Linked DNA regions of Homo sapiens. The protein of the gene in region 2 purifies or fractionates together with the protein of the main gene of each other region. This does not show direct contact. Each region holds a gene or a part of one and is shown on either strand. Other genes may lie near its edges.

Evidence for each region.
Region 1: the proteins of CHMP7 (region 2) and ARHGAP17 fractionate together in Homo sapiens (co-fractionation; one large-scale study listed by BioGRID). This does not show direct contact.

Annotation. Positions count from the first base shown.
Region 1 is NC_000016.10:24,938,860-24,942,672, reverse strand, and holds part of ARHGAP17 (rho GTPase-activating protein 17), read left to right. Parts: intron 1-529; coding exon 530-686; intron 687-3,075; coding exon 3,076-3,309; intron 3,310-3,813. UniProt on the Homo sapiens protein: Rho GTPase-activating protein involved in the maintenance of tight junction by regulating the activity of CDC42, thereby playing a central role in apical polarity of epithelial cells.
Region 2 is NC_000008.11:23,257,029-23,260,841, forward strand, and holds part of CHMP7 (charged multivesicular body protein 7), read left to right. Parts: intron 1-1,004; coding exon 1,005-1,053; intron 1,054-1,301; coding exon 1,302-1,421; intron 1,422-1,703; coding exon 1,704-1,802; intron 1,803-2,037; coding exon 2,038-2,098; intron 2,099-3,115; coding exon 3,116-3,295; intron 3,296-3,509; coding exon 3,510-3,571; 3' UTR 3,572-3,813. UniProt on the Homo sapiens protein: ESCRT-III-like protein required to recruit the ESCRT-III complex to the nuclear envelope (NE) during late anaphase. Together with SPAST, the ESCRT-III complex promotes NE sealing and mitotic spindle disassembly during late anaphase.

The DNA.
Region 1 (3,813 bases), on a different chromosome or scaffold from region 2:
CCTCAGCCTCCTGAGTAGCTGGGAATACAGGCATACATCACCATGCCCAGCTAATTTTTTGTATTTTTAGTAGAGACGGGGTTTCACGTTCTTGGCCAGGCTGGTCTTGAACTCCTGACCTCAAGTGATCCGCCTGCCTTGGCCTCCCAAAGTGCTGAGATTGCAGGCATGAGCCACCACACCCAGCTAAATGTCTCTTTTTGAATGATTCAAATAAGTGATCTGTGCTCATCGTCCTCTTCTACATTCTAGATTTGTTTTTATTTATTTTTTTTCCACAAAAGAGAAAGCACAAAAGTGTGTAACTTATATTCTGACCCATACTTCTTCCCCTGTCTTGTCCTCTTAACATTACTTCCCACTGGTTTGATGGACCATTCTTGCGATGTGAGTGCCTGGAGCTTCCACTTTGAAATAGTGAGGGCTGTGGACTGAAGAACGAGGTTCCCGTTCCAATGAGGGGTGTCTTAGAGCTCCCTCGCCTGCTGTGCTCAGTGTCTCATGCACTTGTTTATTTTTCCTCTTGCAGAGGTGGAATTTAATGTATCAGAAGCATTTGTACCTCTCACCACCCCGAGTTCTAATCACTCATTCCACACTGGAAACGACTCTGACTCGGGGACCCTGGAGAGGAAGCGGCCTGCTAGCATGGCGGTGATGGAAGGAGACTTGGTGAAGAAGGAAAGGTATGATTTGACCGTTCACTTCCAAACCAGCAGTAAATATGTTGTTAGACCCGTGGTATCTGGTATCGCTCAGTGGACTTGGGATTTGAGAGTGGTCGCCATCCACCCATGACTGATGGTGTCCAGATAGTTTCTGGAATTCTGCTGTAGGTCATTCCAAGCACTAATCTCACCATAAAGTCAGTGTGTAGCTTCTCAGTTAACGTTTCTTCCACGTGTATTCCAGCTTAACTTGGTGGTGTGCTTGGTAAGCCCTGCAGTGGAACGGCATCATACACATGTTAAAAGTGACCCAGATGTACGTGAGTGGGGGGAAACAGAAAGGAAAATAAATTCAATAGTGTGGACTTTTGTCCAGAATTGAGTGTGAGAACACCCACCTGGCACAGTGAGTTGAGTGATTTGGCGTTTAAGGAGACATATTTCTGGTATAATGTGGCCCCACAATGGAAGCCAACCACTGAATTTGATGTTCAGTGGGAAAAACCTCAGTATTTGCCAATTCTAGAAGAAAAAAAAATGGCAGTGTTGAACTTAGTGAGAAGCAGTGTGTCTCTATATACTCTTTTCTATGGGCAATTCATGGGATTTTCAAGGGTGATTAAGACTGTTTGTAATTTGTGCCTTTGGATGCCAACCTGTCCCATGTGTGTGATGAAATGCCACTGTACTCACTAGGAATGCTAACAGTTAAGAGGCCTGTTGGAAGTAATATGCTTTTCTTGGTATATTAAATAATACTACTAGAAATAGTTTTACATTAAAACGAAGTGACAAGCTCTTATTTTAATTGCTCAGTCTTATAGTGAGGTGTGCTGTTTGTTTCTTGTTCTTTGTATTGCATTTTTTACCCCTAGCAAAGGAGAATGCATTATTCTGTCCCTATTCTGTCCTTCCAAAATCCACATTTATTCTATGCAGACGTATTACCTCTCTGAACCCTCATTCATACATTCAGTAGTATTTCCTGATGACAGACTCTACCTGTAACAAAATTAGCTTTCATATATTTTAAGTTACAGAATACAGTGCATGAGTCTAGTTAGCACGTGACAGACAATTCTCAGTTACCTGCCTTGTGTATTCTCCCTGCCAGCTGACCCAGTAAGCACGAGCTCAAGAAGCCAGGTATCTTTTTACTTTTTGAACTGAAAGAAAAAGTTGTTAAGTTCATAGATCAGTCGCCTTAAGTGAAAAGTCAGCCTTCCTTCCACCCTCTCCAGCCACATCCAGCCACCATTCCCTTCCCCAAAGCAACGGCTTTTTCCAGTCTTTTTGGTTTTTGTTTTTTTGAGACAGGGTTATGTGCCCAGGCTAGAGTGCAGTGGTATGATCATGGCTCACAGCAGCCTTGACCTCCTGGGCTCAGGCAGCCCTCCCACCTCACACACCTGACTAGCTGGGACTATAGGCACGCACCACCTCACGCAGCTAATTTTCTAAAAAAATAGTTTTTTGTAGAGACAGGGCCTCACGATGTTTCCCAAGCTGGTCTTGAATTTCCAAGCTAAAGCGATCCTCCCACCTTGTCCTCCCAAAGTGCTAAGATTACAGGTGTGAGCTACCATGCCCAGCTTTTCCAGCCTTATGTACCTTTCACATGTAGTCTGCATATGCACATAGGATTGTTTCTACATCTCATCTCAGTTAAGAGGCAGTGTGGTGTGATAACCTTACACTGCCATTGGTAGGCCTTCTGGACTTGACTTCTGTGTCATTCCCCAAAAACAGATTTGAGATGGGAACTAGGAAGTATGGAAATAGGCCGGATGTGGTGACTTATGCCTGTAATCCCAGCACTTTGAGAGACCAAGGCAGGAGGAATACTTGAGGCCAGGAGTTTGACATCAGCCTGGGCAATGTAGTGAGACCGCATCTCTACAAAAAAAAATTTTTTTTTAGTATCCCAGTATGGTGATGTGTGCCAGTAGTCCAAGCTGCTCCAGAGGCTGAGGCTGGAGGATTGTTTGAGCCCAGGAGTTTGGCACTGTAGTGAGCTATGATTGCTCCACTGGAGTGCCAAGCACTCCAGCCTGGGTGGTGGAGTGAGACCACATGTCTAAAGGGGGAAAAAAACAGCAGAGGAAGTATGGGGATAAACACACTAACATGATGTCATTCAAGATGAGGCCTGCCTATTTGCTTTTAGCTGCTCACACCCAAATTGATCAAAGACATTGAACAGTACCAGGTTCATTGGCTTTGCTCAGGCTTGAAGCCGAGTGGAGTTGCTCAGGGGTGGCCATTAGTCTGGTCCTTGCCGCTTCACTGCATGCCGGGCAGCTTGGGTGGCTATCCCCATGTGTGGTTTTAACACATGTGGACCGATGGGCTTCTGTCTCAGTAGTCTGCTCGCATGGTGTGTTGACTGTTTCTTCTCTCTGTGTAGCTTTGGTGTGAAGCTTATGGACTTCCAGGCCCACCGGCGGGGTGGCACTCTAAATAGAAAGCACATATCCCCCGCTTTCCAGCCGCCACTTCCGCCCACAGATGGCAGCACCGTGGTGCCCGCTGGCCCAGAGCCCCCTCCCCAGAGCTCTAGGGCTGAAAGCAGCTCTGGGGGTGGGACTGTCCCCTCTTCCGCGGGCATACTGGAGCAGGGGCCGAGCCCAGGCGACGGCAGGTAAGGAGGCTGACTTCTGCTGGCAGTGGAGGCTGGACGCCCCAGCCTTCTTGCAGGTGGTGGCCTTTGAGCACGGCATCCATGCCCAAAGAACTGCTCCAGCATGGAGTGAACAGATTTACTTTCACTCCTCTGGTTGGCAAAAGATGGAAAAAAAGACTATGAATGGCTCGCTTCTTTTTATGTTTTCCAAAGAAAGCAACATTGGTTTGCATTCTTTGCCACACTGCTTTGGTGCTGGAAACCGGAAGCCAGTGGATGTCTCATAGTGTGATGAGCCTCTGTCACCTGTTGGATGTATACTGTCAGCATTCATGTACCTTCTGTTCATTGTCATCCAGTGTGCTAACCAGGAAGCATTTGAGTGTGGCAAGTTAGTTAAATTTTCGTATTCCTGGCATTTATTCACCCATTCGTTGATTGATTCAGTGAAACAGATTTACTGAGTCACTGATATGTGCTAGGCACATGAGGTGACTAAGACTCCACTCCACACCCCCAGAT
Region 2 (3,813 bases):
TGATCCGCCCGCCTCTGCCTCCCAAAGTGCTGGGATTACAGGCGTGAGCCACCGTGCCCGGCCTTTTTTTTTTTTTTTTTCCTCAATTGAGACAGGGTCTTGCACTGTCCCCTAGGCTGGAGAGCAGTGACATGATCTTAGCTCACTGCAGTCTAACTCCTGAGCTCAAGCAATCTTCCCGCCTTAGCCTCCTGAGTAGCTGGGACCACAAGTGTGCACCACCATGCCTGGCTAATTTTTAATTTTTTGTTGAGATGGGGTCTCACCATGTTGCCCAGGCTGGTCTCACACTCCTCGGCGCAAACAAGACCCCCACCTCAGCCTCCCAAAGTGCTGGGATTACTGGGGTGAGCCACTGTGCCCAGCTGAAAACGTGAGTCTTAATGCTTCCCCCACAGACCATGACTGTGAATGTTATGTTTATGCTCTTCCTTGCCAGTGTCCATTCAACTAATATTTATTGAGCCAGGCATTGTCTTAGGGACTGGGGATACAGCCGTGGACAAGACAGGTCCCTGCCTTTGCAGAGGTCTTTCTGAGGGGCTCTTCCCCTGCCCTTCCCCCTGAATGACTGTACAAGGAATCCCTAATAAAGACACACCCTCTGGCAGGAGAACACAGACATTGAAGTCTGTCTTCCAGGTGGGAAAGTCTAGCCTTGTTGGGAGGCAGAGGATATGTCCGAGGTCATTGTTGGTGTTAACAGTTCCTTCCCTGTCTCCCCAAAACAGGAAGATGTGTATAATGTGCCCTGTTTGCATGTTCTGTCCCTGTGGGTTGAAAAAGCTTATCCTTAGTCAGCCTGCTTGAGCCTGCCACAACAGACTGTCAACAGACTTGCCACAAGAGTTTTTGCCGTCAGCATCAGTTTTCTTGCCACTGGGTATTGGGTTTAGTCTTCAGATTTAAAACCACCTTAACTGAGTGCTGCTCTCAGGGACCCTTTGGGACCCTGCCACTCCCATCCTGTGGCACAGTAATCTTATCTGTCCCTTTGTTTCCAGGTGTAAAGAAGAAGCCCGCCGGGCATGCCGAGCAGGAAAGAAGCAGCTGGTGAGTTCTTGTCTCCTCCAGACCCATAGCAGTGCCCCAGGCAGGCCTGGAGCAATGCCCAGCAGTTCAGAGAGCAGCTTGCTGGGGTTTTGAGGGGGGTAGAGTCTGCAGGGGGCCCAGGCACCACAGCTTATTTTACAGATGGGAGGGAAGAAAGCTGGGACATCCTTAGCGTCTGGGAAGGGCTGTCTTCCTCTTGCCCTTTGGCTCGCCCAGTTCAGCACTGACCTAAGTCTCCATGCCTCCAGGCACTGAGGTCTCTCAAGGCCAAGCAACGGACAGAGAAGCGCATCGAGGCCTTGCATGCCAAGCTGGACACTGTTCAAGGCATCCTGGACCGGATCTATGCCTCCCAGACAGATCAGATGGTAGTCACTCCCCTCTACTCCAGCACTTGGCTGGTCTCTCCGTGTGTGTTGGTCACTTGCAGCTTCGGCTTGGCTGTTTGGAGGATCCCTGGGTTCTTTCGGGATGTGGCTGGGGTTGCCTTTGCCTTTCCAGTCAGGAGGTTTGGCCTCGGTGGGTATAGGGTAAATTGAGCTTGGGTGCCAAAAAAAACACCCCAAAGCTGCCTTTTGGAGTTGAAACAATATTGTATGTATTTTGCCAAATGTCTGTCATTTGCACTGATAGCTTTGCTTTGTCTTTAGGTTTTTAACGCCTACCAGGCTGGGGTAGGAGCACTCAAACTCTCCATGAAGGATGTCACAGTGGAGAAGGCAGAGAGCCTCGTGGATCAGATCCAAGAGGTACAGAAAGGGGCCAGGGAGGGACACACAGAGAAGGAGGTGACAGAGGACAGATTTGACTTCATTGCACATCCTCTTTAACGAAACCTGACTTGTGACCTTGTGAACTTGAGGAAGCTTTCCTTGATTCTCACTTGGGGCAGGATTGCTTTGTAACCCTAGATATTTTCCACCAAAGACTGAGATGCTCAGAGCCACCATGCCCAGCTCAAGGCTTTGCACTTGTCTCTTACAGCTCTGTGACACCCAGGATGAAGTTTCTCAGACTCTGGCTGGTGGGGTAACAAATGGCTTAGGTGAGTGGACAAGGTGGTTATTTTTATTTTTATTCATTTTTTTTTTTTTTTTTTTTTTTTGAGACGGAGTCTCGCTCTGTCGCCCAGGCTGGAGTGCAGTGGCGGGATCTCGGCTCACTGCAAGCTCCGCCTCCCGGGTTCACGCCATTCTCCTGCCTCAGCCTCCCAAGTAGCTGGGACTACAGGCGCCTGCCACTATGCCCGGCTAATTTTTTGTATTTTTAGTAGAGACGGGGTCATTTTTTTTTTTTTTAGATGGAGTCTCACTCTGTCACCTAGGCTGGAGTGCAGTGACGCATTCTCGGCTCGCTGCAACCTCCGCCTCCTGGGTTCAAGTGATTCTCCTGCCTCAGCCTCCTGAGTAGCTGGGATTATAGGCGCCCGCCACCACGCCTGGCTAATTTTTGTATTTTTAGTAGAGATGGGGTTTCACCTGTTGGTCAGGCTGGTCTGGAACTCCTGACCTCGTGATCCGCCGGCCTCGGCCTCCCAAAGTGCTGGGGTTACAGGTGTGAGCCACCACACCTGGCCCAAGGTGAGTGTTTCTTCCTTTCATCCTGGAAGACTTCGCTTCCCTGTGCTGTGATGAGTTTGACAGTAGATTTGCTTTTCCGGGTGCAGGCAGGCCTCTCCTAGCCTGCCCTCCCTGGGGCTCATCTGCGGGAGCAGTCAGGGAATTGCCATTTCCTCCTCGACAGCTGTGCTCATGACCCATCTGTGCTGCGGCATTCCTCATTCACAAGGCTTCTGACTGGAGGATCCTCCTTCAAGGGCAGTGGGAATCAGGGTCAGGTCCATGGTGTTAACAGAATACACCTCCTTGGTGACTTAGCTTGGAGTGTGGAAGAATCATCTCTGCTTGAAGCTACCCTCCTGACTTCCGGGATTTTTTTTTAATCTGCAAGGAGGCCTGGCATCTTTTGTAAAGCTAAGCGGGTTTTGGTAACCTCAGTCCTGTACTCATTAATGCATTTCTCCCTTGAGTTTATGCATCTTTATGTTGTCTTTTCTTTCCAGATTTTGACAGTGAAGAACTGGAGAAGGAATTGGACATCCTCCTTCAGGATACCACCAAAGAACCTTTGGATCTGCCTGACAACCCCCGCAATAGGCATTTTACCAACAGCGTGCCTAACCCTAGGATCTCAGATGCTGAACTTGAAGCTGAACTTGAGAAACTGTCCTTATCAGAGGGAGGTATGGAGCTGTTTTCCAAGGCCTTTGGAGGGCATATGGCCTTCTGGCTGACAGAGTTGATGGGCCCAAGCCCAATTACTCCATTTGCCAGAGTACCAGAGCCCTGTAGGGAGTTGAGGGTTGTTTATATTAAGACTCAGTCTCTTAATCACTGGAATGCCTTCATCTTCAAGATTTTCCTGTTATAGTGTTCAGTCATTTCTTTGCCTTGCAGGTTTGGTCCCAAGCAGTAAATCTCCAAAAAGGCAATTGGAACCGACTCTAAAGCCATTGTAGGACCCTCAAGTGAAGGACCCTCATGTAAAAGAGAGACCAGGCTTGCTGGGTGTGTACATAGTTATTTAAACAAGAAACTCTCAGAATGTGTTTGGAAGAGGAGAAAGGAGAACCACTGATTTTATCTGGATGCTACTACTTACTACAGGACAGATAGAATTTCTGGAAGCGATGCTCCAAAGGCTTGCTCCCAGCTGTATCATGGACCTGCCTTCTCATCTTTATAGTGCCACGATTTATAC